3 linked regions of the Homo sapiens genome follow. The protein of the gene in region 3 purifies or fractionates together with the protein of the main gene of each other region. This does not show direct contact. Each region holds a gene or a part of one and is shown on either strand. Other genes may lie near its edges. The genes, in order: RMND5A, RANBP10 and MKLN1.

The links.
Region 1: the proteins of MKLN1 (region 3) and RMND5A purify together in Homo sapiens (affinity purification with mass spectrometry; 6 studies listed by BioGRID and IntAct, with this or other methods). This does not show direct contact.
Region 2: the proteins of MKLN1 (region 3) and RANBP10 purify together in Homo sapiens (affinity purification with mass spectrometry; 2 studies listed by BioGRID and IntAct, with this or other methods). This does not show direct contact.

The regions. Positions count from the first base shown.
Region 1 is NC_000002.12:86,750,773-86,761,223, reverse strand, and holds part of RMND5A (E3 ubiquitin-protein transferase RMND5A), read right to left. Parts: intron 9,329-10,451; coding exon 9,194-9,328; intron 7,767-9,193; coding exon 7,666-7,766; intron 1-7,665.
Region 2 is NC_000016.10:67,726,514-67,736,964, forward strand, and holds part of RANBP10 (ran-binding protein 10), read right to left. Parts: intron 8,530-10,451; coding exon 8,345-8,529; intron 8,287-8,344; exon of another isoform or gene 8,036-8,286; coding exon of another isoform or gene 7,728-8,035; intron 5,072-7,727; coding exon 4,959-5,071; intron 3,534-4,958; coding exon 3,425-3,533; intron 3,316-3,424; coding exon 3,167-3,315; intron 2,972-3,166; coding exon 2,767-2,971; intron 2,089-2,766; coding exon of another isoform or gene 1,999-2,088; coding exon 1,877-1,998; intron 1,384-1,876; coding exon 1,238-1,383; intron 926-1,237; coding exon 814-925; intron 46-813; coding exon 1-45. UniProt on the Homo sapiens protein: May act as an adapter protein to couple membrane receptors to intracellular signaling pathways.
Region 3 is NC_000007.14:131,329,205-131,339,655, reverse strand, and holds part of MKLN1 (muskelin), read right to left. Parts: intron 12-10,451; exon of another isoform or gene 1-11. UniProt on the Homo sapiens protein: Component of the CTLH E3 ubiquitin-protein ligase complex that selectively accepts ubiquitin from UBE2H and mediates ubiquitination and subsequent proteasomal degradation of the transcription factor HBP1.

The sequences.
Region 1 (10,451 bases), on a different chromosome or scaffold from region 3:
TCCGCCTTAATGAATCCTTGACATCTGAGTACAAATTTCACAGCAGCATCCTTACTCACAATAGCAGCTTCCTCAGATAGCTTTAGTCAATTCACAACTTCTGAACATGATAAAAGCATCTTTTACTGGCTGTGAAGTTCTTCAATATCCTTGTAATTACCATCTTCTTTCAATAAGGCAACTATTATCAATTTGGCCCGAATAGTAGCCAAACTGATTCACACACACACACACACACACACACACACACACACACACTTCTCTCTCTCAATCCAAAGTAGAAGTAAATGTTCCATCTAAACCACAAGCATCTTTCTATTCTAGTGCAATATAAGTGAAAAGATGGTGAAGTGACTTTACCCTCGTCTTTATAGTGACAGGACTTTTCCAATATGCTTTGTACCATTAGCTTCCTGTAGGCTTAGGTCTTGCCCTAGCTTCATCTTGCTGTTGTCCTTTTTCAAATCTTTCTAATCACATTCAATTTCACTTCTAGAGGTTTTTCTTGTTGCCAAGTCCGTCTTCCAATTATCCATTTTTGTAAAATGTCACGTGGGTTTATCCCTGGGAGTTAAAGAGGTGACACAACCCACACAGCTGTTGCCTGAGAGTAACTGACAGTAGATGTGCAGTGATCAAGAGCGAAGTGACAAAACTGGTCATGACCATGATGCTCCTGTTATGTCCAGATGTGTAGACTGAAGAGCTGGCAGAGAAGTCTGTATTTTATACAATTGCTCACAGTTAATACATCATGGTGACTGAAATCTGAACTGTGTTGTTGGCAGCCAGGTGTTATTTAACTAAACTGTGGTAAAAACGAATTTATGTATGTTAGAAACCTGCAAAGACTGCCCATAGGTTCAATAAAGAATACAAGGGCTGGGTGCAGTGGCTTAGGCCTGTAATCCCAGCACTTTGGGAGGCCGAGGTGGGTGGACCACCTGATGCTGGGAGTTTGAGGCCAGCCTGATGAACATGGAGAAACCCCATCTCTACTGAAAATACAAAATTAGTCGGGTGTGGTGGCGCATGCCTGTAATCCCAGCTACTCAGGAGGCTGAGGCAGGAGAATCGCTTGAACTCGGGAGGCAGAGGTTGTGGTGAGCCAAGATTGCGCCATTGCACTCCAGCCTGGGCAACAAGAGTGAAACTCCGTCTCAAAAAAAAAAGAATACAAACAGGAGAGAAAGGACACAGAGATCTCAGTGGTAAGAGGTTACTTTATAAAGACAAAGAAGTTCCAGACTGATATAATGAGGAAAGACATAAAGTTTGAGAACCTGAGCAAGTCAGGGTGTCTGTGGCCCATTCTCATAAATCTTAAAGAATTACAAAGAAAACGAAATTCGTTTTCTATTTCTCACTAAAATGATTCCTGCCCCTGCCCCTCCCCCTTCCTTCCTCCCCACGTTTTTGTTTTTGAGACAGAGTCTCATTCTGTTGCCCAGGCTGGAGTACAGTGGCGTGATCTCGGCTCACTGCAACCTCTGCCTCCCGGGTTCAAGTGATTCTTGTGCCTCAGCCTCCCGAGTAGCTGGGGTTACAGGTGCTCACCACCGCGCCTGGCAAATTTTGTATTTTTAGTAGAGATGGTGGGGGGCGGGGGGGCAAGCAAACTAAAAATGCAGTGAAATTATTAACTCTATAATTTTTTTAAAAAAATTCTGATCCCAAATTTCCAGCGTGGACCACGAGAACACTGTCACCTTTGGAATTACTCCATTTAGAGAAACACTGAACCCCAAAAATGACAGTAAGATCAACAGTGTTACACTGATCTCTGCCACTACATTCTTCTGATGAAGAGCCTTTTGGGGCCTTTCCACCAACAAACCCCAAAACAATATTACTTATGAGAAGACTAAGTTAGAAGCAATCCACATCTATACAATTACCCAGCAGAAACATTAGCATTAATTATCTTAATTGTCAGGCCTGTGAAAAGACTTGGCACACAGTTACCTCCATATTTAGAATTTCTACATCATTCCAAAAATAAATACAAGATTTCACCTTCATAGTTAGCGGTTCTCCCTCAGGAACCTAACAGACAGCATTAGTGGGCTTATCTCTCTAATCTTACAATTTTGCCAGCCTGGGTGGGTGTCTATTTCTAGTAATACTAGGGAAAAAAAGCCTCTTGCCAATCCCACAGCACATTCCACTGTAACCTTTCACAGCATTTAAAGGCTTACAAAAACCTCTTTTTCTAATTTCCTTTAAGGCTATACTCTTGGGGGTAAAAGCTGAAGTTCAGGGGAATGAATGACATTGATTTTTACTCCACAGGTGTGGACCTGGTGAAATGTCCTTAGTAACATGAATCAAATGCTTAAAAAAATTCAGAGAATGGCAAACCTGACAAAAAGTTCAGTCAAAAAAGTGAGGAACTCTGTAACTTTGCTTTAGAGACTGAAAAGAACACTCAGTGTTTCATTTCTTAGATATTTTCAAATGGTAATTTTTCAGCTATGGGCTGAGTCCACTGCTGGAACTACTACCATTAAACTCATCTCAGAGTTGGTGTGAGTCTCTGTCCTTTTCACATGCTATTTAAGAAACCACACAAACTATGGTATTGCATATCTGACTCTATTTAAGACACACACACACACCCTTTTACATGAGGTTCTCAGTAATGCAGAGATTAGTAAGAGCTACACATAGGAGTGGTCACCATATTGGACAACATATCTAGCAGGCATGCTCAAAATAATGTGCAACGGATATTCAATGCTGCATCACTTATAAAGCAAAATATCGGAAACTACAAACGTCCATCCATAGGAACTGGCTAAATAAAATTAAGGTATAATCCCTAAAAGAGAACACTAAGCAGCCACCAAAAAAAAAAAATAGTTCTATATGCTCTGATATAGGCAAATACTTCAAAATTTTTCAAGTAAAAAGCAGAACACTGTGTATAGTATGCAACCACTTGTGCATAAAAATGTACGTATACATAATACAGTTAATGGTGGCTGCCTGTTTGGAGAGTAACTGTGATTAGAAGGCAAAGGTGGGGAGATTTACTTTTCACTGTATTTTTATCTTGTTGTGCCTTTTGATTTTGTACTCTTATTTATTACCTATTGGGATACTTAATGCTGACTCAAAACTCGACCAAGGCAAGCCAAGGACAATTTTGAGAAAAGGAGTCAGTGAATGAAGTCTGAACTGCCCAACGGCTCTGCAACACAACCTCCATGGTGGACATAATGGCATCAGGACATTTTAGCCTGAGAACTTTGAACATTTTCTAGAACAATCTCCTCTTGTTCCAACTCCAGGCTTTGCAAGCTCATGTGCCTTCCACATGGACCTGCCTACCACAAGCTTGTTTCACAGCCCCTAATAATCCAAACTATGTACGCAGCTTAGCAATTCAGGTTTTTATCGTTTTTAAAGGCCTGTTCTTAGTGAAAACAAAACAAAATAAGGACACCAAAAACAAGTTTCCAAGTCTGCAAAGCTGAAAGTCAGATACTAGACTGTGGCAAATCCAGCAAGGTAGTATTACTCTTTGAGACACGTTTAGGAAGGCAACCAAGTAGCTTCCCCTAAAGATAGTGCTTTCTTTCAATATGTATGTTAATAATGGCATAGCTACAAGGACAGTTCCTATTTTTTCTAATATTTCCCCCACCTCGTTGTATTAAGTTACTATTCTCTCGTTAACACTATTTTTGGCTTTCTATCTGCCACCATGGAAGAGGATGACAAGTTTGCTCTAAATTCTCCTGCAGATTACTGTTATTCATTGAGGGCCTACTATGAGGTAAGCACTACTCTAGGCGCCAAGAGAAATTCAAAAAGCAAATAAAACAATCTGGGTGAGCATAAAAGAAATCTGGATGAGGGGGAAAATCTGTACAAACTCAGAGGTACAAGGGCACGGAACACAGGAGCAGGCAAGGTCCTGATTAGATCTATGTAATCAGGTGTTGTTCTGCCACTTCTCTCCACAATATCACCATTCCCCTAGGCCCTCAATGGCCTTTAGCCACCTCCACTTTTTTTTTTTTTTTTTTTTTTTTTTTTTTTTTGAGACTGAGTTTCACTCTTGTTGCCCAGGCTGGAGTGCAGTGGCGCGATCTTGGCTCACCGCAACCTCCGCCTCCCGGGTTCAAGCGATTCTCCTGCCTCAGCCTTCCTGAGTAGCTGGGATTACAGGCATGCGCCACCATACCTGGCTAATTTTGTATTTTTAATAGAGATGGGGTTTCTCCACGTTGGTCAGGCTCGTCTTGAACTCCTGACCTCAGATGATTCGCCCGCCTTGGCCTCCCAAAGTGCTGGGATTACAGGCATGAGCCACCGTGCCCGGCCTAGCCACCTCAAATTTTTGGCTGGCCTCTGCCTTCTCACCGCATAGGCAGTCTGGAGGAATTGCTGCATCCTCTCCTTCCTCTTTTCCCTTGTGAGCTCCATGATATCCTTCCCAGCAGGAACAAATGGGATGCTGCATAACTGGCAGATATCTCCCGCCTTGTACCTTAACTAGAATTCCCCAAATTGGAGTCCCATATCATTCAACTTTTGCTGTAAGTTGAGTAAAGGGAATTTTCTGTACCTAGCTCATGAAAGATGCTTAGTCAGTATCTGCTCTGCACCCACAATAGGCAAGAATTGGAAAAATCTGAATTGTTGTAATGACGATTTCTATTAAATCTTATGTTTTGTATAACTCCAATTTTATGGGTTTTAAATGTGTTATCTGGAGGGAAAACAAGATTGGTCAAATACACAGAGAAAACACTGGGTTATACCAAGTTAAATGAGTTTCTTTACTGTAGGATTACTGATGGTACGTTTTTACTTCTATTTATTTTCTTATTTTTTGAGACAGGATTCGGCTCTGGAGTGGTGGTGTGGTCTTGGTTCACTGCAGACTCCGCCTCCTGGGCTCAAGTGATCCTCCCATTTCAGCCTCCTGAGTAGTTCAGACTACAGGCGTACACCACCATACCCAGCTAATTTTTCTATTTTTTTGTAGAGATAGGGTTTTGCTATGTTGCCCAGGCTGGTCTCGAACTCCTGGGCTCAAGCGATCTGCCCACCTCAGCTTCCCAAAGTGCTGGGCTTACAGGTGTGAGCCACTGCACCTGGCTTGATGATACACTTAATAAGTTAAAATGAACCTCAAATGAGAATACTGGGGGACTATTATGTAAAGCATTTCTCATATAATCTTTTGACTTTTTTTCACAGAGGATCTTCTAGGCCCTAATTGCTTCTCTGTAAGATGACTTACCTCATAGGTTAATATGAGGGTTGAATAGGTTAAGACACGTAAAATGCTTAGAACGATGCTAGGCATACAATAACCACTCAAGCAGAGTTAACTATGATTACCACTACATTCCCTCATGCTGATATTAAACACTACTCCCAGAAACATGAAATGAGAAAATTTTTACTTATGGAACAAGTCCTCTCTCTGCCTGAGAGGAATTGTTTTAAGGCAACAAATAATAGACAAAATTTACAGAAATAATCAATATACATAACATGCTTATCAATAAGAAACATATCTTATATACGCACAAAGTTTAAAAGGCTCTTAGGAGAAAAGTCTGGAGTACTCTGAAGGCTAAGGTAGCAAATACTATGTGCCAGTGACTACAGATATAGTCATAGTACGTACATGACTAGCACATATGAACAAAGTTTAATGAAAAAACCTAAGAAACGCATAGATAAGTGAATATTACCTTGAATAACAACCCAAATATTATTTGCTAATCACTATAAAACAACTGGGAAACCCATTACATGTTCATATATGTATGTAGGCTTTCTCGGGCACATTGGCCCATGCCTATAATCCCAGTACTTCGGGCAGCTGACGCTCCAGGAGGATCACTTGAGGCCAGAAGTTTGAGACCAGCCTGAGCGACATAGAGAAATCCTGTCTCTATAAAATATTTAAAAATTAGCCAGGTGTGGTGGTGTGCACCTGTAGTCTTAGCTACTCAGGAGGCCGGGGCAGGAGGATTACTTAAGCCCAGGAGTTTGAGAGTGTGCAGTGAGCTATGATCATCCCACTGCACTCTAGCCTGGGCCACAGAGCAAGACTCTGTCTCTTTGGGAAAAAAAAAAAAAAAAGTAGTTGTTGCCATATTTTGTTTAAGAGGTGTTAGAGGTATTTGGTTGAATTTATCTCCCAGATGTGTCACAATCTGAAATTTGCTTAAACAAATTCTACAAAGGTAATATGCATCTTACACAGAGATACAGTTCTTAAGTGAGATCTATTATAATTTATACAAGAATTTTATATAAATTTATACAGGAATTTCTGTCTAGTCATCTGGGCTGGTTTTAGAACTACACAAAATTTTCTCAGAACTGAGAAATGGCCAAGTACAGAGGCTCAAGTCTGTAATTCCAGCACTTTGGGAAGCCGAGGTGGGAGAATCACTTGAGCTCAGGAGTTCGAAACCAGCCTGGGTAACATAGTGAGATCCTGTCTCTACAAAAAAAAATTTTTTTTAATTAGCTGGGCATAACGGCACAGTCCTGTAGTCCCAACTACTCAGGAGGCTAAGGCGGGAGGTTGGGGGGTTGGGGCTGGAGTGAGCCATGATTATGCCACTGCACTCTAGCCTGGGTGACAGTGAGACCCTGTCTCAAAAAGGAGAAAGAACTGAGAAATGATTAGAAAGAAAAAACTAAGCTATGAAGAATTAAATGGGTTAGTGGAACTAAATTTTAAGGGAAAAAGTGTACATTTTATAAAAGTCAACTTCCCAGCTAACCCTGTAACACTGATGGTTAATTTTTCTGGTTTTAAAATACCAGGATTCCAAAGCTATAAGCTCACAACAAATCACTGCTTCTATAATCCAGTTTCTTCCCTTTATTTTATGAGCTATTTATTACAAATAACCTGGTAATCCTCACAGTAAAAAATTTTAGGACTGGGGCCAGCAAACTATGGCACAGGCCACATACAGCTTGCTGCCTGTTTTGTATAGCAGATGGCCAAGAATGGGTTTTTAAATTTTTAAAGGGTTGTAAAATAAAATGAAGAATATGCGACAGAGACCTTATGTGAAATGAAAAGCCTAAAATATTTCCTACTTGGTCCTTTATGGAAAAGCTTGCTGACCCTGCTCTAGAATAATATTTATTATAGCTTACAGAGTAATTTCAGACAATTCTTATCAATGAGAGGTTCATGGTCAATTACCAAAATCCACAGTAATTAAGAATAGAGTAGCTTTATAAAAATATTTGTTCTCTTCATCCACACCACCTAGTTCCAATAACCAATAATTTCTTAGAATGCTAGCATAAAACCCAGCAAAACCCAGCACATGAAGGAAGCTTAAATATCAAACTTGCACTGGCTGAACAATAGTGCTTGTTGTAATGTCAGCCCACACAAAGTGGTGGTGTAGCCTGGAAACAGAAAACCCTTTTCTCTCATGGGAATTCAGACCAACTGATAAGTGAAATAAGCTCCAACCATTTTCTCATATTGCACACCCCCCATATTTCACTTAGCCAAAATAAATAAAATAATTCTCCTTTGATTTCTCTGAAGTCTACCACAGGTAAGATAAATATATCTAAAAATCTCTAATGTGTTTTCTGATTGAGTTTTCTTACAGAGAGTTCTCAAAGTACTCAAAAGAAAGCAAACTCAATACTCACTCCAGAGCAGGTCTCAGAACTCTGACCTTTAATGCCTCTAATATTCTATTTAACTCCACAAATGGTTCCTTCTGACTTGGGTCTACAGAAAGACCAGATTCCTGGAAAAAGAAAGAAAGAAAGAACTTTTGTTAGCAGTAATCAGGGTAAGGAGCTAGTGGTAAAAGTATATTCTAGATTGTAAAATATGGGGCAAGCCATTAAAGATAATTCCCTATAGTAGAGACTGATGACTGCCCCCTAGTACATTCTTCCCCTCTTTTCCATAGTAGAATCCCCAAATTTCAGCAGGGTACATAAGCAAATGGAATAAAGCTGGGTATGGCTTTGTAAGACGTTAAGTTCTGACCAATGAAACATAAATATGCACTCTGCCCCTTTCTGGGATACAAAGGTATGGCTGGAGCTTTGGCTGCTATCCTGGACTCTGAAGACAGGAGACACCCTGGGAATAACAGAGGTACAAGGTGCTAAGTCCCTAAGAGTTTCACAATGCAGAGCTACCAAACATGCTGTGGACGTCTTACTACCGATTTCTGTGCAAGAAAAAAATTTCACTTTTGCTTAAGCCACTGTAATTGTGGGTCTTTTGTTACTTAAAAGCAAACAATCCTCAATGACAGTTTACTGCAGGAAATTACATGGACACATACACAAAATCCCTGTAAGGTACAGAGAAAAACCGAGTTATCATTTATCTGAATTGTTTAAAATAGAAAAGGCTTAGATTAGAGGTTTGGTTTACAGACTGATTTTAAACTAATTCTTTCGGTCCTTCATGTTTCCAAACAAAAATGCAACAGCACATGGTGGCTTAGAACGGAGTGTGAAGACATATGAATCAGGGACTGAATCCCAGTTCTTTCACAAAGAACCTGTTAAGGCCTCGGGCAACTTACTTCTCCAGACCTTAGATTTTTCATCTGTAGAATGGAAACAATAATTTTTACTTCATGGGATTGCAGCAAGGAATAAAGGCAGGGCTTGGCTTAAGGTAAGCACTCAATATATGGCAGCTACTACTATTATGACTACATGGTATTGGTAAACTGTTGTAGAGTTCTAACTCATGTGTGATAGAAATAAAAGACAAATGCTGCTAATGCGAAGTAAAAAATTTTAGCTGGAAATTCATTTGATAAAATCGTTTAAGCTGGGCTAGAACAGAAGAACAAACATCAATGTTTTTGTCCCTTTCCTCTTGTCTGCTATACTAACCTTCTATATCAAAAATGGACATGAAGAAAGAATATCGCTTTTGCGCCCTTTGATTCATGAACTGGGACTAACCTTCTGGGACAGGAACAAGAAAAAAATGATCTGGATAACAAGTTCTAGAACTATAATTTTTGCCACTTAAAAAATTCCCCAAAATACTCCTAGTAAAATGAGGTCATCTCTGATAATTTAAATATTAAAAATCTATCTATAGCTAGAGGAAGACTCAAAACCCCACCCTGCAAATACTATAAACTCCAAGGAGTTCCCTTGTTTCTTTTTCATATCCTCCCAGTTGGCACACTGTTACCTGACAGAGCTCCTCAGCCACATCCAGCATTCCTTGTCGAAAGAAGTGCTCCACCATCACCTCATTGAGAAGCCTTTGGCTGTCTGCCTGCCAGCAGCCATCTATTCCCACACTGCTAATGTCAGAATCAAAATTCTGGGGAAAAGAAAGAGAAAGGGAATCATAAATAGATTATTTTCACCCCACTTAACAGGAAAAAAATGGTCTTTGTTTCAGTCTGAGATACCCCAATAAGAACCCAACTGCAATTTATAGCGTCCCAAAGGAAGGAATTTTTCCACTGCTCCTTTCTAAAACTTGTCATGCTAGAAGAGTAAATAGGTATATTTTTAGATAATGTTTTTTTAAAGTAGATTTAATAATGGTGTCCATGAATAAAATAAAATCAAGCGAATGAACTGATTTCTAGGCATTATATGCAGCAATATTTTTAGAGGAATGCAATGATGACCTGTAAAAGCATGCCCACTGCAGCACTGTCTATAATGGGAGGGGAAAAAAGGAGAAAACACATATGCCTATCAACATAATAATCCATGGCACATCCCAACAACTGCAGTATTGAGGCTGAAAGTGGTTGTGGGGGCATGGCCAACTAGTTAAGAGAGTGGTTTATCTACACCTCTGGGTTTGCCTTTGAGCTATACATGCATGGTCCTGACTCTAAACAGCATACTACAGATTTTGAAAACTGAACTAGGGAATAGACCTAATTCCTAGGTCCCATATTGGCTACCAGGTGTTACACACACAGGACAAATCTAAATAACTGTAATGGCTTTAGAAACAAAACTAACACTGAAACTACAACCCAGAAAAGACTGGTTAGAACTTGTGGCCTGAATCCAACAAGGTTGATTGCCTGCTAAAACAAAAATACCAACACTCTCCACAGAACTTAAACAAGACCCAGAGTACTATAATACATATTCAAAATGTTCAAGATACTGCAAAATTACTTGGCATACAAAGAACCAAGAAAATCTCAACTCACATGGAAAAAGATGATCAACAGACACCAATGCCAACATGACAGAGATGCTGGAACCATCCAAAACTTTAGGGCAGTTATTATAAAAATACAAACAATCTTGAAACAAAGGGAGAGACTTAGCAAGGAAAAAGCTGATAGAGTAACCAAAATAAAAAATTCATTGGATGAATTTTTCAACAGCAGAAGCAAAGTGGCAGTGCAAAAAGTCAGTGAAAATCAATAGAATTCATCCAATCTGAACACCAGTTTAAAAAAAAAAAAAAA
Region 2 (10,451 bases), on a different chromosome or scaffold from region 3:
CCAGGGCGAGCATCAGAGGGGGCTGCTTTGGCAGGTTCTGGGACTCTGTGGAGGAAAGACAAGGCCTGGTCACTGGCCTGCCCAGGGCTTGGGCCCAGGTCAAAGTTCCCTTGGGGGTGGAAGGAGGGGGCAGTGGACAGATTCTCTTGGAACAGAGTGTTCAGTACCTCTGTGTAAGTGTGTCCCAGCCACCAGGCCATGGCCCTGAAGTCATGCCAGGAACCTGAGGACCTTAGCCCCATGTAGAGCGCTGGGCTGGCCTGGGCCTACTGCCATGGCCTAGGACCCATCATGAACTCAGCTGGGCAGACAGAGGTCAAGGTTTAGGTTCAACCATGGGAGCCCAGGAGTCCTATGAGTCACCAGAGAGGGCCTGTACAGAGCTTGCTGCCCCAGTGTGGATAAACATCAGCTCTTTCTGGGGCCAATTGGGGTGGGGGTTGGGAACCACCCAGGTAGCTATGGGCTAGCTTCTGTTTTTGTTAGATCCACTCACCTAGGCCAGGCATGGTGGCTCACACCTGTAATCCCAGCACTTTGGGAGGCTAAGGCGGGCAGATCACCTGAGGCCAGGAGTTCGAGACCAACCTGGCCAACATGGCAAAACCCGTCTCTACTAAAAATACAACAACTAGCCAGGCGTGGTGGCACGCACCTTAGTCCCAGCTACTCAGGAGGCTGAGGCACGAAAATTGCTTAAACCCAGGAGGCAGAGGTGGAGATTGCTGTGAGCCAAGATTGTGCCACTGCACTCCAGCTTGGGCTACAGAGCAGACTCTGTCTCTAATAATAATAATAAATAGATTCACTCACCTAAAATGGCGCTGTTGAGGGCAGCACACACAGGTTCCCTCTGGATGGGGTCAAGCTGCTGGCCAACTGGGCAGCTCCAGGGGTCTGAGTATGCCAGCAGGCTGAAGGCATCCTACAGGACAGGGCATTCTTGAGAGGACTGTGGCACACACCATAGCTCACCCTGCTACCCGTGGCTCCAGAGGGAGACAGGGCCCTGCATGATGCCCAGCCTGGAATGTGGGGTGTAGGGTCGGGCAGGGCTGTACTCTCCCCAGAGCCTAGGTGTGGAGGGCACATGTCCAGTGGGCCCAGATGCCCCACTTCCCTCTGCAGACCTGGCTGGAGCCCACTCTTTCCTGCTGCCCCCTGGACTCTCCCAGAGCCACCCTGCCCCCAACACCAAATGGGGCCTGCTCTGCATGAGGCCCGGCTCATCCTGTACCTGCAGCATCTCTGTGTGGGCCAAATTCTTGCCGTACTCCCGGCCCAACTGCTCACTCAATGCCTGCAACTCGCGGCCAAACAGAATGATCCTTTCTGTGGCAGCCTGGTTGCCCCCGCAGAGCTGCCGCCGAGGATGCCTGTCATCTGCATCCAGAACCCAGTGGAGAACGTGTTAGGAGGGGTGAAGAGGGAAGGGCAGGACTAGGGTGGGGCAGGAAGGACCCCGGGTGGGCTGCAGCTTCTGCCAGAGGCAGGCAGGGCTGGGAGGAACAGGTGAGGCAGCTACAGTCAAGGCGTTCTTCTCTTCATTCACCTGGCGCACAGTCTAGGATTTAGGGAGGACTTGGAAGTTGTCCCTCTTCCCAGCCTGCACAGACGCAGGGTGCTCATTAGGGTGCCCATGCTCTCGAACACCCTCCAGCCTCAAACATAGGTGGTCTTGGCACAGGCCAGGGCCTTCGTACATTTGGAGCCACCTCAAGGACCCATTCACAATCGGCTAAGGAGGCTGTGGACCAGGTCTGGCTGAAGCTTCTCAAGATGCCAAAGCCTGCCTACCCCAGCCCCTCCCAGGGGAAGAGGGCACCCAGACTGCACACTGCCCTCAAAGAATAGCACACCGGGCCGTGGCTCTCACCCATGCTGGACTCATCCGTCTGCAGGTCCTCATGCTTGTAGGCACCATTAACAATGCGTGTGGACATGCTTCCTAGCACACCGTTGGGGTAGTGCTCTGCCTCCATCTCCATCTCACTGTCGCTGTGGGGAGGGGTTGAGGTGGGAGTTGGCCCAGGGGGTGTGGTTGGAGCAGCCTGGTTGGGCCTCCTTTCAAGCTGTAGCCATGGGTTGCTGTGGGTGAACCGAGGACCCCCAGGAACATGAAAGGACAGCTCAGGCTTCCAAGTCTTCAGCACTTGGCCCCTACTGTGACACCAGCTATCCTCAGAGGCCTGTCACCTGATTCCCACCCTTGCCCCAGTGCTGCCTCTGTGATTCTCCCCTCCCTGGCCCTCCTCTGAGTTCACACACCTCTTCTACATATCCCCCAACCTAATGACTGGGCCCCATGGCCCCCATGGGCAGCTCTGTGGCCTTGGTTGGAAGCCAAACTCAGGTCAGCCTTGAGGTGTACCTGGGGATGCTGAGAGCCACCTAGAGCTCTAGCCTGCGGCTTAGCTTCCCCTGCCTGCCCAACCTGGCTGTCTACAAGCCAGAGCCAGGGAAAGCTCCCTCATGATGGACCCTGAGGGTTCTCACAGGCCCGGCCTCTTTGGAGGAGACCACATCCTCAGCCTGGCATCATTGGAGCCTCTGGAGAAAGCCAAGGCCAAAGAAAGTGCAGCTAAATCGTGGGGAGGGCCAGAAGCCAGAGCTGATGTCTGGCCCGGTGGGCCAAAAATTAGGACTCCAGGCACAGACCTGAGATGGAGGCTGGGGGTGAAGGGCAGGGCGCTCAAAGGACAGACTGCAATGGGCCCAGCTGGCATAAGGCAGAAGGCAGAGGAGGAAGCAGAGCAAGGCAGGCACCTGGTCTCCTGGTTACTGGTACTGCTGTGGTGCTGGGACTTGGTGGAGTCTGTTGAGTTGGACTCGGAGTAATTGACGGAGGATGGGGAAGAGGACGAGGAGGAGGAGGAGGACGAGGATGAGGAGCTGGGTGCAGGGTATTTACTGTGGTTCTGTTTGCTCTTGGTGGACGCGACGCCATTGCTACAGCTGGGACTGTCTGCTCCTAGAAGCCAGGGTGACAGTCAGAAGAGGAGGGGCAGCTTCCCATGAAATGAAGCCCCAAGAACAACCACAGTGGTCCCATTTCCCTTCTCCCAAATCCAGCAGTGAGCCCTGAGCCCAGCCCAGGAAAGGGTATGTGGAGTGGCCTCTCTCCTCCACACCAGTTCTTCCCAGAGCCCTCTGGAGAGTGGCTGACCTGTGTTGTGCATGTGGGAACTACTGGGGCCATGTCGGGGACTGAGGCTGGGGGAGCCAGGGTAGCTGTCCTGGGACTTGGGGCTTCGGGAGCTCAAACTTCGGACCTCACTGTCCGTCCCATTCACCATCTCCACAAACTGCCGGCACCTGTGGAGGGAGCGGAGCAATAATGCTCTGGTTGTGGTCCAGGTTGACGTTCCCACCACCAGCTGAGAGGGGCTGGACTCTGGGGGAGCTGGGGGTGCCCAAGACTTACTTGAGCATGAAGAGGAGGTTGGGGTTGTGCTCCAGCAGCCCTGGGTAGAAGCGCTGGGTGGTCTCGATGGCCTCGCCCACACGGCCCTCCAGCACCAGCTTCTGGATCTCTGCAGGGTGCAAGAACACAGCAGTGAGCGAGGGCTACAGGCCTCTCCCACAGCCACACACCTGGGATGCTGCCAGCCTCAGGGTAGGGTCCGGCTCAGAGTGCCTCGCCAGCTTGAAATGCTCACAGGAGAGGAGGCTGGAGAAAGAACCTGACTGCCCAGCCCAACAGATCCTGGTTTCTGCCAAGTGTCAGAGAGTCCTCAAGAATATGGGGAAGATGGAGGGGAGACTCTCAGCCCAAAGGCAGGAGGGTAAATGTGGAGGTCTGCTCCTGCGGGGCACATGGTGCCAGGGACCTGGGGGCAGGGTAGGGCCCCAGCTGGGGCAACATGATCTGGGGATGGGCACCCAGGCAGCTTGGCGGCCTGAGTGGCTCCTCTTCAGACAGACTCCTCTCCTTCCAGGCCTCACAGGGGAATGGCAATGGAATCACACTGGTTTCTGACCAGGGCTCTGGCTGGTGGTCTTCAGGGGCTGCAGCATGCCCCCTGCTGGGAGAGGAGGCCATCCTCCTCATGCTGGCACCTCTGATGTTGACACCTCTCACGCCATCAGCATCTTGCTGCTGCCTTTTCGCTCTTGCCGTGGGGCCTGGTGCATCTCGCTGGGAGCAACTTCAGAGTCTGAGGCTCTCATTCATAGATCCCAAGTCTGGGATCCCTTTCCGTCTGTCTGGCTGAGCACAGCTTCTCTGGGAGACAGACACGTGCACATACAGAAGAGACAGCAGGCTTGGAGAGGGGTAGGCAGGCACTCACAGACACGCATATCCACACCCACTTGCCCTCATTCTCCTTTTCTCCTTCTAGCTCCTCACTGGGCTCCTTTTCCTCTTTTCCAACACCCCTCCTTCCGTGAAAGAGCCTCCAGACACACAGCATCCAGGCCAGCATCAACACTGGGAGAGCTCTGGCCAAGGGAGGACTTTAGGTTGTCTGCAAAGGGCAGGACCAGTGGTGGGGAGCAGAGGGTAGTGCCCCCACAGCAGCCATTGAGCACTGGCTTTGCCCTATCTGACCACTTCAGTCCCCTCTCTGGCTAGGAATAAGCAGAACTACTAAGGCAGGCAAACAGCCTTCCTGGAAGACCATGAACAGGAGGTTGAGAGGAATCCAGGATTCAGGGGGAAGGAAACAAGCAGGGAGGAAATGGAGGAATGGAACCAGCCATGCCAGGGCCTGGCCTGCGCCCAGCCTTCAGAATGTGCATTAGGGAGGCTGCCCTGAGACGTCTCCATCCTGCCAACTGTCCATCTGGGCAGTGCCATCTTGAAGGTGGGACAGGAACATGGCCTCGAGCTGCAAGCTGGTCATGAGGACCAGAGCTGAATGGACTCCTGACAGGTTAACCAGGGTTGACATGAGCCAGAGAGCAGAGTTAGGGACAGGTGAGGAAGGGAAAGGGGAAAGTAGAATAAACCTTACTTTGTCTGTTCTTTATGGACGCCTGTTCTTCCTGAATCGGGGTTTCAGTCATTCGAGCAAAAGCCGTGGCTGTGGCACAATACCCATGATGCACGAGGTAAGATGAAACCATGCTAGAAGAAAGGAAGAGCTTCAGGTGACACTCAAGAACTGCACTTCTCACTGACTACCCAATGGACTCAGGACAGATTACCTCCCCCAGAGGTCTCCCTAAACACGTCCTGGAGGTGTAACCTCCACAGAATGAGAATAAAGGGGCTGAAACAAAATGAAAACTTCCCCCATGGTGCCCCACGGTCATGAAGTCAGGCTTCGGAGGGGCTGGTCACCACATCTGTGCCCACAGTTCAGAGGAGTGGCTGCAGTTTATCTGAGACATGCTGCCCACAAGTAAGCGAGTATGATAACAGAAGTACACACACAGGCACACTCCTCACAGGTGGCTGCCTCTTTGGGAAATGCAGCAAGCCTAAGAGGCCAATAGTCTCACTGATAGCTTCCCGAAACTGCAGCTAGCCAGGTAATCTGGCAGATTTCCAGACAGGATGCATGCCACATGCACACCTTCTACAGACACAGGAGCCCCTCTGCAGGCTGTGCCATGTACCTGAGAGAAGCATTTCAGCCCTCCAGGTGAACCTGCCCTCAGCAGTTCCAGCTCTAGTGAGTGAGTGATGGGAAGCTAACTCACAACCCAGAGTTACACCATGATACACCACAAATCAGGGGCCCAAGAAGCCAAGCAATCAGGCTGATTTTGCCAGGCAGAGATAGGCAGCAGCAGGGCCAATGGGAACACAGTCATTGGGAAATGGTCTGGAGAAGTCTGACTCCCTGTAGCCATTTAACCCCAGCAGAAGCTGGCTGAACAGTGGCACATGTGTGTACACATATAAAGCAGAGGCTGAACCCTCAAATCTGATGTGTACAGGAGTGAATACCTTGGTGTGTACATGTGTCTGATGTCATTACTGTAACTCTAAACACAAATGTCTGAAGGGTTGTCAGGTGGAAGGCACAGAAGTTTGGGTGTGTGTTCCCTCAAGCTTTAAGGGGTAAATGAGATAATACACATAAAGTACCTGGCAGGAAGAAGTCCATAAATAAGACTTCTTATTATGAAATGATATATTACATAATATTATAGTATAAATAATAATTATCAGCTGGGCGTGATGGCTCATGACTGTCATCCCAGAACTTTGGGAGGACAAGGCGGGAGGATCACTTGAGGCCAGGAGTTCAAGACCAGCCTGGCCAACATTGCAAGATCTCATCTCTACTTTAAAAATATGGCCAGGCGTGGTGGCTCATGCCTGTAATCCCAGCACTTTGGGAGGCTGAGGCGGGCGGATCACAAGGTCAGGAGATCAAGACCATCCTGGCTAATGCGGTGGAATGCCATCTCTACTAAAAAAATACAAAAAAAAATTACGCCCGGGCGTAGTGGCGGGCACCTGTAGTCCCAGCTACTCAGGAGGCTGAGGCAGGAGAATGGCTTGAACCCAGGAGGCGGAGCTTGCAGTGAGCCGAGATTGCGCCACTGCACTACAGCCTGGGCGACAAAGCGAGACTCCATCTCAAAAAAAAAAAAAAAAAAAAAAAATTATTGGCTGCGTGTGGTGGCTCATGCCTGTAATCTCAACACTTTGGGAGGCCGAGGCAGGAAAATCACTTGAGCCCAGAAGTTTGAGACCAACCTGGGCAACATGGCGAAACCCTGTCCCCACAAAAAATACAAAAAATTAGCCAGGTGTGGTGGTGCATGCCTACAGTCCCAGCTACTCAGGAGACTGAGGTAGAAGAATTGCTTGAGCTCAGGAGGTCCATGCTGCAGTGAGCCATGACTGTGTCACTGCACTCCGCCTGGGCAATAGAGTAAACTCCTGACTCAGAAAAAAGTAAAGTAAGTATAATTATTATTATTACACCATATTATTATTATAAACACAAGGGTAAATATGAAAAAGTCTTTATCTACAAGAGGGTTACCTACACAAGTAAAAGAGAAGGAATTACCTGACCTTCCACTAGAGGAAGCCAGCCAAAAGGCTTGTGACAAATTTGTCTCTGTGATAACATAGCCATTATCAATATTCATTAAATGAAGTTATGTAAAACCACAGTACACAAATTATATGCAGGTCTTGGCAAATGCTACATATGAACACATACAAGCACATGGATACACACATGTAAACAAAAACACCTATGTGCTATGCTGGACATGGTAGCACATGCCTGTGATGCCAGCTACTCAGGAGGCTGAGGTGGGAGGATCACTTGAGCCCAGGAGTCCAACCTGGGCAACAAAGTGCGACCCCATCTCAGTATTTTTTTAAAAACCCCAAAACAAAAACACATCCATGTGCTGAGCCTAGGCCCTGAAAACTGAGAGTATCAGTTCCTCCCCTACACAGACTTGGCATCTTCACCCCTCTTCTTGGCAATCCCACCAAGCCTGCTCTGGGAGTGGCGCTGTCCTGGCCATCCAAGGAAGTCCTTGTCATCTGCTCTGGGGGGCTGTGAACAAGAGGCAGCAATGCTGTTTTTCCTGGGGAAGGTCTGGCCACCTAGCCCCTGCCTCAGCCCATCCTTGGGGCCTGCCTCAAGGGACAAAGGCTGCACAAAGAACTCAGTGTGTACCCCAACCCCACCCCAGGAATCCTAGCACCCTGGTGCCTTTGCAGGGCAATGACCACAGGCAGTGGAAGCCCAGCCCTTCCCCATGCCCATCTGCCCATCCTTGAGAGCCAAGCTAACACCCACCTCCTGGCAGAGTGGATACTGGTCACTGCCTCACTCAGGCTTGCAGATGGCAAGTGGAAGAGAAACCCAAAGCTGGCCTCCCTTGGGAGTTCAGCGACACTGGCTTCCAGGACAGTCTGGGAATTAATCAGCCAAGGAGCTAGCTCAGCTGGTCCTAGGGAGAACTCCCTTCCCTCCACCACCGCTATAGACGAATGAGACTCAGTTGGATGCTGGGCCCTGTGAGGTGGCCTCAGGCCAGAGTCACAGCACCATGGATACTCCCTATGGTAGAAAAAGGGTCCACAGAGGAAGAGACCACAGGGCATCCTCTGCAAAATCCTCTGCAAAATGACCTGGGGAAGGAAAACAGCCCTGCTGGTGATCTTATATACAGGAGCCTCCAATATGGCTGAGAGGCAAAGGTTTAATTAGGAGCAGCCCGGAGAACTCGGTGGGAGCTGTCCATCCGACGACAGAGAAGCAGGAGAGCTGCAGGCTGAATGGCCCTGGGAATGCTTCCCAGAAAGGATCCACCCGCTGGAATTTGTAAGAACAGCTTGTAGCCCTACAGGGGCCTAGAGTGAAGTGGGCTGGGGTGGGGTGGGAGTGGGTAAGGGCAGGAGCAGGGCACTCACTTCTGCAGCACTGCCTGCCACTCGCCAAGCCGGGCACTGATGGGGAAGCAGTGGACCGTGCCCTGGACCTTGGCACGCCACTCCCGCATGTAGTCCTCAATGTCAAACAGGAAGGGCTGCTGCCCAAAGTTGGCGTCCACAATCTCCCCAGGTGTCTGCAGGCCTACGGTGGGGTAGAGGTTGGCCTGAGGAGGAGAATGAAATGTCAGTCAGGCCCTGAGGGCAGTGGGGTTCTAAGGCCTCACCTCACCTCCATGGCTGCTGCTGGCCCATGCTTGGGCTGGGAGAGTTGCAGCAAGGCTGGAGGAGGCAGGGCGGAGCCACCTCTGTCCACCTCCCTAGCAGAGACATTATGCCCCAAAGCTTGAGGGGAGAAAGCAAAAGAAAAGCAAGCAAGGCACATCATGGAGAGTGTCCTGCCCTGTATCAGAGGCCATTGTGTCCTCAAGGCCCAAGAGCCCTTTCTGGAACTCAGCCAAAGCATACAGAAATGGGCTGGGCTCCACGACCCTTCAGACGTGCCCATGAAGGTCTGCTGCAATAGTGGGTCATGGCTCCTCTTGGAAAGATCCAGGGCCAAGGATCTCTCTGTCTCAAAAAAAATAAGACACATGAGGCTGGGCACAGTGGCTCATGCCTGTAATCCCAGCACTTTGGGAGGCCAATTTAGGAGGATCGCTTGAGCCCAGGTTTTCAAGACCAGTCTGGGCAACAAAGTGAGACCCTGTCTCTACAAAAAATAAAAAGATAAAAATTAGCCAGGTGTGGTGGTATGCACCTGTGGTCCCAGCTACTCGGGAGGCTGAGGTGGGAAGATGGCTTGAGTCCAGGAAATTGAGGCTGCAGTAAGCTGTGATTCTGCCACTGCAACCCAGCCTTGGTGACAAGAGTGAGTCCCTGTCTCAGAAAGAAAAAAAAAAAACAAACCAAAAGATAGATACATGGGGGGTAGGCAGAGATGGGATGACGCAGGAAAGGAGGGAGGAGGGGAACATGGCAAAAGGGAACCGGTGGTCTAGACCCCTGGTGCTGGCAAAGGGTGAAGAGAAGCTACCCTTCCTGTTAGAGGCTCGCTAAGAGGATCTTCTGGCCAGTAGGGTGTGAGGCTCCCTGCTTTCCACCTAGCCTCTACCATGACTGGCTTTTGTTCGGTCCCTCCCTCACTTGGTGGTTCCTGTGGCTCCCCACTGCAACTGTCCAGAGCCTCGCTAGCCTCCTCCCCACTGTCACTGCAGATGGTCTTCCCAGGGCCCTCAGTCCACCCTTCACCTCCGTGCTCAGGCCATGTTCCTTCCTGAGTATCATGCACTTTTTTTTTTTTGAGACGGAGTTTCGCTCTTGTTGCCCAGGCTGGAGTGCAATGGCGCGATTTCAGCTCACCGCAACTTCTACCTCCTGGGTTCAAGCAATTCTCTTGCCTCAGCCTCCTGAGTAGCTGGGATTACAGGCATGCGCCACCACGCCCGGCTAATTTTGTATTTTTAGCAGAGATGGGGTTTCTCCATGTTGGTCAGGCTGGTCTTGAACTCCCAACCTCAGGTGATCTGCCCACCTCAGCCTCCCAAAGTGCTAGGATCACAAGCGTGAGCCAGCGCGCCTGGCCAACCATGCATTTTTGTACCTGCACAAGGTATGGGACCTTTTCCTGTATGCTGGCTTCAGCCCACCATGGGCTCTGCACACAGAGGACCTCTCGCTTCCTTTCTTTCCCCTACCATCCTCCACCACAGGCAAGGCCCGCCTCCTCCAGCAAGCCTTCCTGACCGTCACTGCCTACCATGTCTTTCCCCCATACCTTCTTGCATGTGGCTGCATACTGGCCATGCTCATGCCTGGTCATTTCATGTCACGTCCCCATAACTAGACCCTTCCCTAGCCAGGGTCAGCATTCTCCACCTGATTCTGTTCTCTTTGCCTAGGACCACAGCCCCTCTCTGGGGCTTCCAGGTAAGAGGGAAGGATTCTGAGCCATGGACTGGAGGTTTTAACAGGACCCTGGGTGCTATGGTCTGGGCTTCAGAGGCCCATAAGATCACAAAGGCATTTCCTGGGGCATCACTGGGGTGTTTGGGATCCCAAAGCAGCCACCAGAGTCAGCAAACCTTCC
Region 3 (10,451 bases):
ACGATCTCAGCTCGCTGCAACCTCCACCTCCTGGATTCAAGCAATTCTCGTGCCTCAGCCTCCCAAACAGCTGGGAGCACAGGCATGCACCAACACATCCTGCTAATTTTTGTATTTTTAGTAGAGACGGGGTTTCACTATGTTGGCCAGGCTGAATTCCTGACCTCAAGTGATCCACCCACCTCGGCCTCCCAAAGTGCTGGGATTACAGGCACGAGCCAGTGCACCCGACCAACTCTCAATTTCTTAACCTTATAAACAAGTAAGTCTCAAAAGAAATGTGCAAATCACCAATGAAACCAAAAATAAAATCTCATTTTAACTCTTAATAAGCATTTAAAACAACTGCTTAACAATAACTTCTCAGTTTTTTGGCTAAGAACAAGAATAAAACAACTGCTAACAAATCATGTTACAGTCAGTTGACCCTTGAACAATGTGGGGCCTAGGGGCGCCAACTCCCATGCAGTTGAAAAAGCCATGTATGACTTTTGACTCCCATAAAACTTAACTGCTAATAGCTTACTGTTGACTAGAAGCCTTATCAATAACATGAATAGACAATTAACACATATTTCATGTGTTACGTGTATGACATACTATATTCTTACAATAAGCTAGAGAAAGGAAAATGTTATTAAGAAAACTATAAGGAAGAGAAAAAATATTTACTATTCATTAAATGGAAGTGGATCATCACAAAGGTCTTCATTGTTGTCATCTTCACGTTGAGTAGGCTGAGAAGGAGAAAGAGAAGGGATCGACCTTTCTGTCTCAAGGTGGCAGAAGCAGAAGAAAATCACGTGTAAGTAGATCTGCAAATTCAAATCCATGTTGTTCAAGGGTCAACTGTATTTAAGTTCCACAATTCTTTCCCATCAGATAGCAAGAATAAGCAGTTAATGAAGGAAAACACTTAGCAAGAGACCAAAGAACTCTGGGGATCAAGTCGTACGTTTTTACATTAATATAACCATGAGAAACTCACAGGCCTACAAGATATAACACTCTATTCCAAAAGAACTAAACACAGAAAGATTTCTGCTTTTGAATATGACGGAATAGTCTGTAGCAGATCAACACTCCCTCTTAAACTAGAAAAACTGTATTAAATAGGGAGAAAGTTCTTAAAATATCAGACTTTCTGAGGTAGCTAAGACTTGAGGTGGCAAGAAACTCACTGAAGGGTATCTGACATTCTGTGCAGCTTTCCCTTTCAAGACATGTCACCTATTTCTTTAATGGCACAGGCCAAGGGGCTAAGAAGCCAAAAAAGGACAGCCACTAGGAGGCAGAGAAGTCAGCAAAGCTTTTGGCAATTTCATGGGAGTAGGGGGACAAAACTTGGTAGCTAAGTCTTGAGGAGTCAAGATCCCCTAGTGAAAGAAGGCACAGAAGAACAAATGTGACACTCAGTACTGATTTTCCTCTTAAGGGATTTATCAGCTTTTAAACTGCACATAGCAAAAGGCTAAAAAGCCAGCAGAAAGCAATTAAAAAGGAAGAAGGAGCTTTTAAAACTCTCATGGGTCTGGAAAGAAAAAAAGCCAGAGAAGCCCTAAAAATACCCAATCTCTTAATTGAGATCTCTAGGGGGCTACCAAGTTGGAAGCAAACTACAGGTAGAACAAGGTTTATAAGGCTGAAAACCCAACCTCAAGTCAGCTCAGTCCTTGACAGTTGCAGTGATCTCTATCTGCCTGCAAGAAGATGGGTGAATCTGAAGACATGTGAATCCTATCTGGGGAAATGTATCATTATAGATACAAAATTTGTATCTAAAATTCTGCATATAATGTCTGGCACTCCATCAAAAAATTGCCTAATAATAATTATTACTATTATGTTATTATCCACATGTAATAATTTATATAATATACAATAGAATATATAATTAACATACATTAATATACAAATATATTAACTATTATTATTATTTGGCCTAACAAGATGCAAAATCAAAAGGAAAGAGATGATGGAAATAGGCCTATAGGTGATACAGATATTGAAGTTTTCAGACACAGACTTTAAAGCAATTTGATTAATATGCTCAAAAAATACATGACAAGAGATTTTCACATAATTAGAATCTATCTTAAAAAGAGAGGATGAAATAATTCTAAAACTAAAAAATACTATAACTAAAATTAAGAATAGATGGGGTTAAAAAGCAGATTGGACATAGTTAAATTCAGAATAAGTGAACTGAAATACAGTCAAGTAAAAACTATCCAGAACGGATAAGAGGAGGAAAAAAATCATAAAAATAACAGAAGAGAGCAGGAGACATATGGGGGATAAAAAGTATAATAAAGATTTAATTGGAGTCACAGAGCAAAGGAGACAAAAATGGGGCAGAAACAATATTTTTAAAAAGTCAAAATTTTTTCACAGCTGATCAGTCATACTACAAATTCAAGAGGTGCCAGAAACGCCAAACAGGGTACAAACAAAACCATTCTTAGGTGCATCACTGAAAGCTGTTTAAACTTAAAGAAAAAGAGAATGACAAAAAGAAAGGCAGCTGAACAAGAAAGTCATACTACCTTCCAAGAAGCAACAGTAAGTCTGACGGCTGATTTTGCAACAGAAACAATGGAAGCTAGAAGACAATGAACTGAGATCTTTAAAGTGCTTCAAGAAAATAACAGCTAATAATGTAGAACTGTACAGTCATTTAATATATTCTTCAAAGATGAAAATAAATAAATTTCAAACAAGCAAAAACTGAGAATTCAGTACCACCAAACTCCCTAAAAGGAGTTCTTCAGACAGAGGAAAATTAATCTCAGATGGAAGCATGTAAATACAAAAGGAAATAAAGAACAATGGAAAGGGTAAATATTAACTGTACAAAACAACAGTCTCTGGATTTAAATGTAGACGTGAAATGCATGACAATGACAACATAAAAGCAGGAGAGTGATAAATGCTATTAAAGTTTTCTAGGGTCCTAACAATGTCTGAGATGTTGTTTTTCAAAATCCTAATGAATATGCAACTCTAATGTACCACAAGAAAGCTTGTGGTGATCTAGCGTAACCACCAAAAGAACAGTAACAGAATATATAACTAACAAGCTAACAAAGGGAGGAATAAAATAATATTTTTAAAACACTTGATTAATCCAAAAGAAGGCAACAATGGAGAGAAAATAGAATATAGAACAAGTAGGACAAACAGAAAACAATAAAATGACAGACATAAACCCAAATTTATCAATAATTATATTTACCATTAATGAGCTAAATATATTTCAGATTTAATTAAAAACAGGCAAACAAAAATCTGTTTATTCTTAACAAGAAACAGACCCCAAATATAAAGCTACAGGAGCATTAAAAGCAAAAAGGAGAGAGAAAGTTTTACCATGCAAGCAAACAGCAGCCAAAATAAAGCAGGTGTAGCTAAGAAGACTTTGAGGCGAGAGACAAGTGTTACTAGAGATAAAAAGGGACATGTTATAATGATAAAGAGCCAATGTACTAGAAAGATAAGTTTGTATGTGCCTAGTAATATGACTTCAAAATACATAAAGCATACAGTTTAGTTCTTTATAGAACTAAAAGGAGAAATATACAAATCCACAATCACAGTAAGACACATTTGACACTTAACCTCAAGACACCTCTCTCTGTAATGAATAGAAAAAAAGGCAAAAAAAAAAAAATTCAGTAAGGATAGAGAAGATTTGTACAACACAATAACACAATTTACAAACTTGAACTTAACAAAGTACATAGAAGACAGTAGTTAACAGCAGAATGCATAGTCTTTTCAAGGGTACATAAACATTTATAAAAATGCTGAGCCATAAAATAAGTATCAATAAAGGTCTGAAACTATTCAGAGTGTGTTCTCTAATCATAGTGAAATTAAGAAATTAGTAACAGAAAGATAACTAGCAAATCCCCAAACGTTCAAAAAGTAAGCAATACATTTGTTAAAAAAAAAAAAAAACCTACAGGTCAAAGAATAAGCCAAAATAAAATCTGAAAAACATTTTTGCATAAATGATAATGAACATGTAACATACCACAATTTGTGGGATACAGCTAAAATGTGTTGAGAGGAAACCCTATAGTCTTAGGACTAAACATAGCCTAGTTTTCCAATTATTATTAACAACCAATTCAAAATATAAGTTATGTTAGGGTACTTCAATCTAGTTAGCTGCCATTCAACAACTTTTTTAGGGACAGATTTATATTAGACTACTTAAATTATTCCTAGATAATGACTATGATATTTCCTTTCTCTTTGTATACTTTTTTAAACATGGATTAATCTTAATCAGTAAAATTTCATCATAAGCAAAACCCATTAAACAAACAATATCTTTGTTTATCTACAGCATAAATATACATACACAGTATTCTACAGAATGTTACTTTGACTTCACAGATTTTTAGAAATATTCGTAACCAAGTCCTGAAGTTCTCATTAAACAACAACAAAAAAATTTTCTAACTGAAACATCTTCCCAATGTGCAAAGATGTTAAAAAATATTTTCTTCAAAAGTCCCCCATATTAATAGATTTTAATACTGCTGGACTTCTCAGAGCTTTATCTGACCACCCCTTAATAAGCAACAATCTACAGAACCAGCCATTCACAAAACAAGCCCTGGGAAATCCGGTAGCAGAGAAGATACCCGGATCAACTATCCTAAGATTGAACCTATAAAGACCTAGAAATTTTATAAATTTTCTATTGTCTCTTATCAGAGATTTCTGACAAATGGTATTATAAACAAACAGTAATTAGGGATCTCTAAATTCTCAACTGTACATTCTTTGAAACATTTTATACATATTAAAATGTCTATAAATAGCTGTATCTCTAAAATTAAAGTCTAGAAAATCTTTCATATTTCCAAAAACGATTTTTGAATGACTGAAATACAGCAAACTCATTGCCACAAGTGGCTGAAATGTATCTTATCTACACGTAAAACATCACAAAGTCTTTGTATCAGGCCAAAAATCATTTATTAAAAATCTATTTAAATATTTACCTAAAAGTTAACGCAAATAATAGAACCATTTACCCATGTGCCCAAAAAATTGTACATAAACCTCTCAACATTTGATCAAGATAAAAAGTATTTCTACACAAGAAACTGACGCTCAGAAAAGAATCATAACTTGCCAAAAGTCACAAATATCTAATTCTAGGAATCAGCTCTGTAGACTCAAATTCTCATCCTGAGTACATTTCTTCCATCTTGAGTGTTTTTATTTTTCTGAAGTTCTAAGAGTCCCAGACTGAAAAACACAGAACTTTCAGTGGCCAGTAAGGTTCCCAAACAGGGCCAGTGTCCTTAAATCTCAGTTTAAGATAGGGAGAAAAGGGAGAAAAGGAAGGGCATAATAGTATCCGGTCTCCTGGGAGTTGCATGCCTCCAAACTAGTGGTTCACAAATTCTGGGTTGCAGGAGCCTACAGAATTATTGTAACAAGACCTCAAATCCATTTTCATAACCACCATTATCTGTACACCAAATACAATAAATATATTCTATTTTTCAACTATATGTGATTAATAAAATCAAAATTCACTTAAAAGCTAAAGTAAAGGGATAGAGAAGGAAGAAACAAAAAAGTTATTGGGAGCATTATCACTTTTGAATTATATAAGCATCCTCTAGACATCTCTACGGACCTGTCTCTGATTTAAATATGTTTTCTTCCAAATTACCAAGGATAATGCCAAAATGAACTCAGAGTAGTCTACACAGATAGAAGGAAAATAAACTGATACCTTTAATCCAGCAACTCAACATCTAGGAATTTATCACCAATGAGTTCAAAATTTTTTTCCAGGCTGGGTGTGGTGGCTGTAATCCCAACACTTTGGAAGGCCGAGGTGGGCGGATCACCTGAGGTCAGGAGTTCGGGACCAGCCTGACCAACACGGAGAAACCCCGTCTCTACTAAAAATACAAAAAATTAGCTGGGTATGGTGGCACATGCCTGTAATCCCAGCTACTTGGGAGGCTGAGGTAGGAGAATCGCTTGGACCCGGGAGGCAGAGGTTGCGGTGAGCCGAGACTGCGCCATTGCACTCCAGCCTGGGCAATAAGAGCGAAACTCCGTTTCAAAAAAAAAAAAATTTCTGTAAAGCAAAACTACCTCATGACTCATAATAGTCAAATAACAAGAAACACAAATGAAAATAAAATAAAACCACAAAGCCTAAATGTCTAATAACACGGGACCAATTAAACAAAATGACATAAAGTCATTACATGGAATATAATGTATCCATAATAAATTTTGGCTGGGCACAGTGGCTCACACCTACAATCGCAGCACTTTGGGGCACTGAGGTGAGAGGATCACTTGAGCCCAGGAGCTGGAGACCAGCCTGGGCAACATAGTGGGACCCCATCTCTACAAAAAAATTTAAAAAATTAGCCAGGCATGGTTGGCTGGGCATGGTGGCTCATGCCTGTAATCCCAGCACTTAGGGAGGCCAAAGCAAGTGGATCATTTGAGGTCAGGAATTCAAGACCAGCCTGGCCAACATGGTGAAACAGTGTCTCTACCAAAAATACAAAAATTAACCAGACGTGGTGGTGCACGCCTGTAATACCAGCTACTTAGGAGGCTGAGGCACAAGAATTGCTTGAAGCCAGGAGGCAGAGTTTGCAGTGAGCCAAGATGGTGCCACTAAATTCCAGTCTGGGTGACACAGCGAGACTCCATCTAAAAAAAAAAAATTAGCCAGGCGTGATGGCATGTGCCTGTAGTCCCAGCTACTTGAGAAACTGGGGCTGGAGGATCGCTTGAGCCCAGGAGGTCGAGGCTGCAGTGAACTATGATCATGCCACTGTACTCCAGCATGGGTGACAGAGCAAGACCCTGTCCCTTTAAAAAAAAAGAAAAAAAATACAATATAGAAGAATATTTAATAACATAAGGAAGTATTTACTATATGTTAAGGAGGAAAAAGCAAATACAGAACAGCAAACAGGACAACAGTAAATTGAAAAATACATACATCTACAGTAAAAGATCTGGAATGATAATAAACAGTATTTAAAGGGTGACTAGTAATCTTTAGGTAGTGATATCAAGGGTAATTTAAATTTTGTTTCTGTGGGTCCATATTTTACAAATATTCGATAATAAACATAGAGCATTTTTTACATCAAAATATATATTAAAAGATATATAAAATATATTTTAATATATATGATATAAAAAGTGTCTATTTTTTTCTTAGACATGGGGTATTGACGAGATGCTGTCTTTTTCTTTTGTAGAGACAAAGAAGAAAAGAATATATATATATTTACATATTTTTAACATAATAATATATAACTATGCACATATATTTTATGTAATAAAAATATATAAATATTTATATATTTTTTTTCTTTTGTAGAGATGGGGTATGTTTCCCAGGCTGGTCTCAAACTCCTGGTCTCAAGTGATGGTCCTGCCTCAGCCTCCCAAAGTGCTAGGATTACAGGCATGAGCCACCGTGCCTAGCCTATATTCATTTTTAAATGTGAAATTTTAAAATTAGTTTTGAAAAGAGTTGAAATAAATTCACCTTCTATTCTAGTTGTCAAATCATAACACTTGTACTCTGAACCATGAATCAATCACATGTTGACACAAGGTACTATTTTAAGTACTATTTGATTTTAAGTAATAAGACTAACAGGAAAAAGGTAAACACACTTAAAAATCTATCAGATTTTATCATCTAAATTATCTAAGTCATTCAATAATATGTAAACAAGATAAGAATCATTCTATACCAATGAAATTACCTAATATGTAAAAAATACTTTCAAAGTTTCTCCCAGTTCTCATATGAGTATACTAAAATCTTAAACATCAAGATAAAATCTATTTTTCCCTCTCTTGCTGTTCTAACCTTAGAGCGCTTATCTGTAATCTCAATTAGACATATACAATAGCCATGTATAATAATGAACAGCTTTCGTAACAGAAGTCAAAAGGCCCAATATGAGAACCTTATCACCTACATTTTCTTCCTCCTCATCATTATTATTATTGCAGATGGGGTCTCATTGTGTTGCCCATGCTGGTCTCAAACTCCTGGGCACAAGTGATCCTCCTGCCTTGGCCTCCCAAAGTGCAGGGATTACAGGTGTGAGCCACCCTGCCCTGCCCCTCTTACATTTTCAACTCTTAGACCTGGGCAAGTTAACTTACCTCCCTAAATCTCACTTTTCCTAGCTCTAAAATAGAATAATAATATTTATCTCATAGGGTTTTTGTGAAGACTATTATATCAAAGAACACATGCTAAATGCTCAGTACAGTGCCTGAAGAATAGAAAGTACTCAATAAGTGGTGACTGTTATTAAAGTCACAATGCAATAGTTTTTAAGTCAGAAAACCTGGCAAGCCTCTGGAAAACTATATGACCCTGGGCAAGCTACTTACCCTGTATGGACCTCAGTTTCATCCTCCACAAAACATATATAAAATACCTATCTTACAGGTATGTACCAAGAATTAAACAAAACTGTATACAAAAAGCATCTTGCATATATTAGGTGCTCACTAAATTGTAACTAGCATCATTATTAGATACAAAAATAAACATTTGAGTACAGGGATTAGCAGTTTACAAAATATTTTTATGTATAAGAGTATATGTAATTTTATGAATTATTTAAATAAGTGTATTTAATTATTAAATTAGGTGTAAATTTCAGAAAAAAAGTAAAATACAGGCAATCTCTAAGCACACAAAAATAAAAGGCCTTTTTTTAGTCTCAAAGTAAAAATGTGTTCCCTATAACTGAATCTGCTTTAACATTTTTAAAGTCCAAATAAATTAAAAAGAGTTGAAAGGGGAAATATTTGTTTTTTCTGCCTCTGGAAGAAGGGGAAAAGAATTCTAAGTCCTTAGAAAGAAAATAGAGATAAAATTGTTCAATTTTTTTTAATGACTTCACATTTCTTTACACAACTAAAATGTAAGTGCCTTTAATACAAGAGCTCTTTTAAAGTTCTGATTTCCTGTACTATATATACCTTTGTGCAGAAGCAGTAAAACACTATAGTTAAAGACCACAGACTGTGGAGCCTGACTACCTTGATTCAAATTCTGGTTCCATCTAGCTGTGTGACCTTAGGCAAGTTTAAACTTCTCCCTACCTGCTTCCAACATCTGGCAAACGGAGATTCCTCTTGGGATTGCGGTAAGGATTAAATGAGTTGATACACTTAAAAATGTTCATAAGAGAGCCTAGCAAATGGACGGCACATCATAAATGTTTACCATTTTTGTTACTGATTTATTACTGCCACCTCGAAATGCTTAGATCTATGCCAACAAATATTTGCCACTTTGTGGACAATTTCAACAAATGTCTTTAACCTAAAATGAGACCTGTTTAAGAAGTACCTTAATATGGTTTCCACTGCCAGTAAAGATACAACAATTGCTGCTAGAGGGGATTTTAGGGCAAAGGTAAGTAAAGTCAACCCCTTTCCTACATCTTCTGTCACACAGAGAAGTAATATCCTTGCTTGCTTATAGAAGTTCAGAGCCAAGAGTTTTATAATTTAGGCATGGCACACACCAACCCAGCAGACACAATATTCTCCAACTCCAGCTCCATAATACTCAACTATACTCCTTCAAAGAAAAAAGCTTAGATTACTCTTCTAATACTTTACTTTAAATACAAATTATACTGCATTTGTCAATAGAATGTCATAAGGATTAAACAAGATATAGTAAGTGGAAGTGTATGAAAGTTACGTATGTATTAAATACTATTTTATGTATGTACTTGAGAAAATTGCAGCAATGTATTTCTCCAATCTCAAATTGTTGCTTTCTAACTCCAAAACTAGTGTTCTGCCCACTGCAAACCAGGGGCCAGAGTAACAAGACACAAAAGATTAAAGTTGCCATCCCACTAAATCATTTCCTGCTTGAAATGTACTTTCTTAAAATGTCTATACAACAGATAACGCGGATGGTACTTGTGTTATCCAAGCCTCAGGCCTACATCAAAAATTTAAGGAGTGACGTCCTGGAAATACGCTAATTCAAGACCAGAAAAATGTCTCTACAGTTAGATCAAACAATGCCACACCAATTCCCAACTGTCCATAATCCTAGCCTGGGTATAGAAAAAAGCTGAATAACTTCAGATCCAAGAACAAGATAGCCCAGAATATCAGAGGTCAAGTACATAGGGCCACATTTCAACTCCAACTACATGGCTGGACTGTTTATCTGGCTCACTCTCAAATTCAAAGTTGGGTTTCAGCATCAATCAGGGATATGGCCATGAATAGGCTACGCAGGCCAGATCAAACCACAGGTCACTTGGCACCCTTCATTGGGCCAGATCCTACTGAATGCCAACCCTTGACCTGGTGAATAAAATGGGAGGCTGGCAGTCATGACAGATTCTTCCAGTTGCAGCTCCATTTTGAGATTC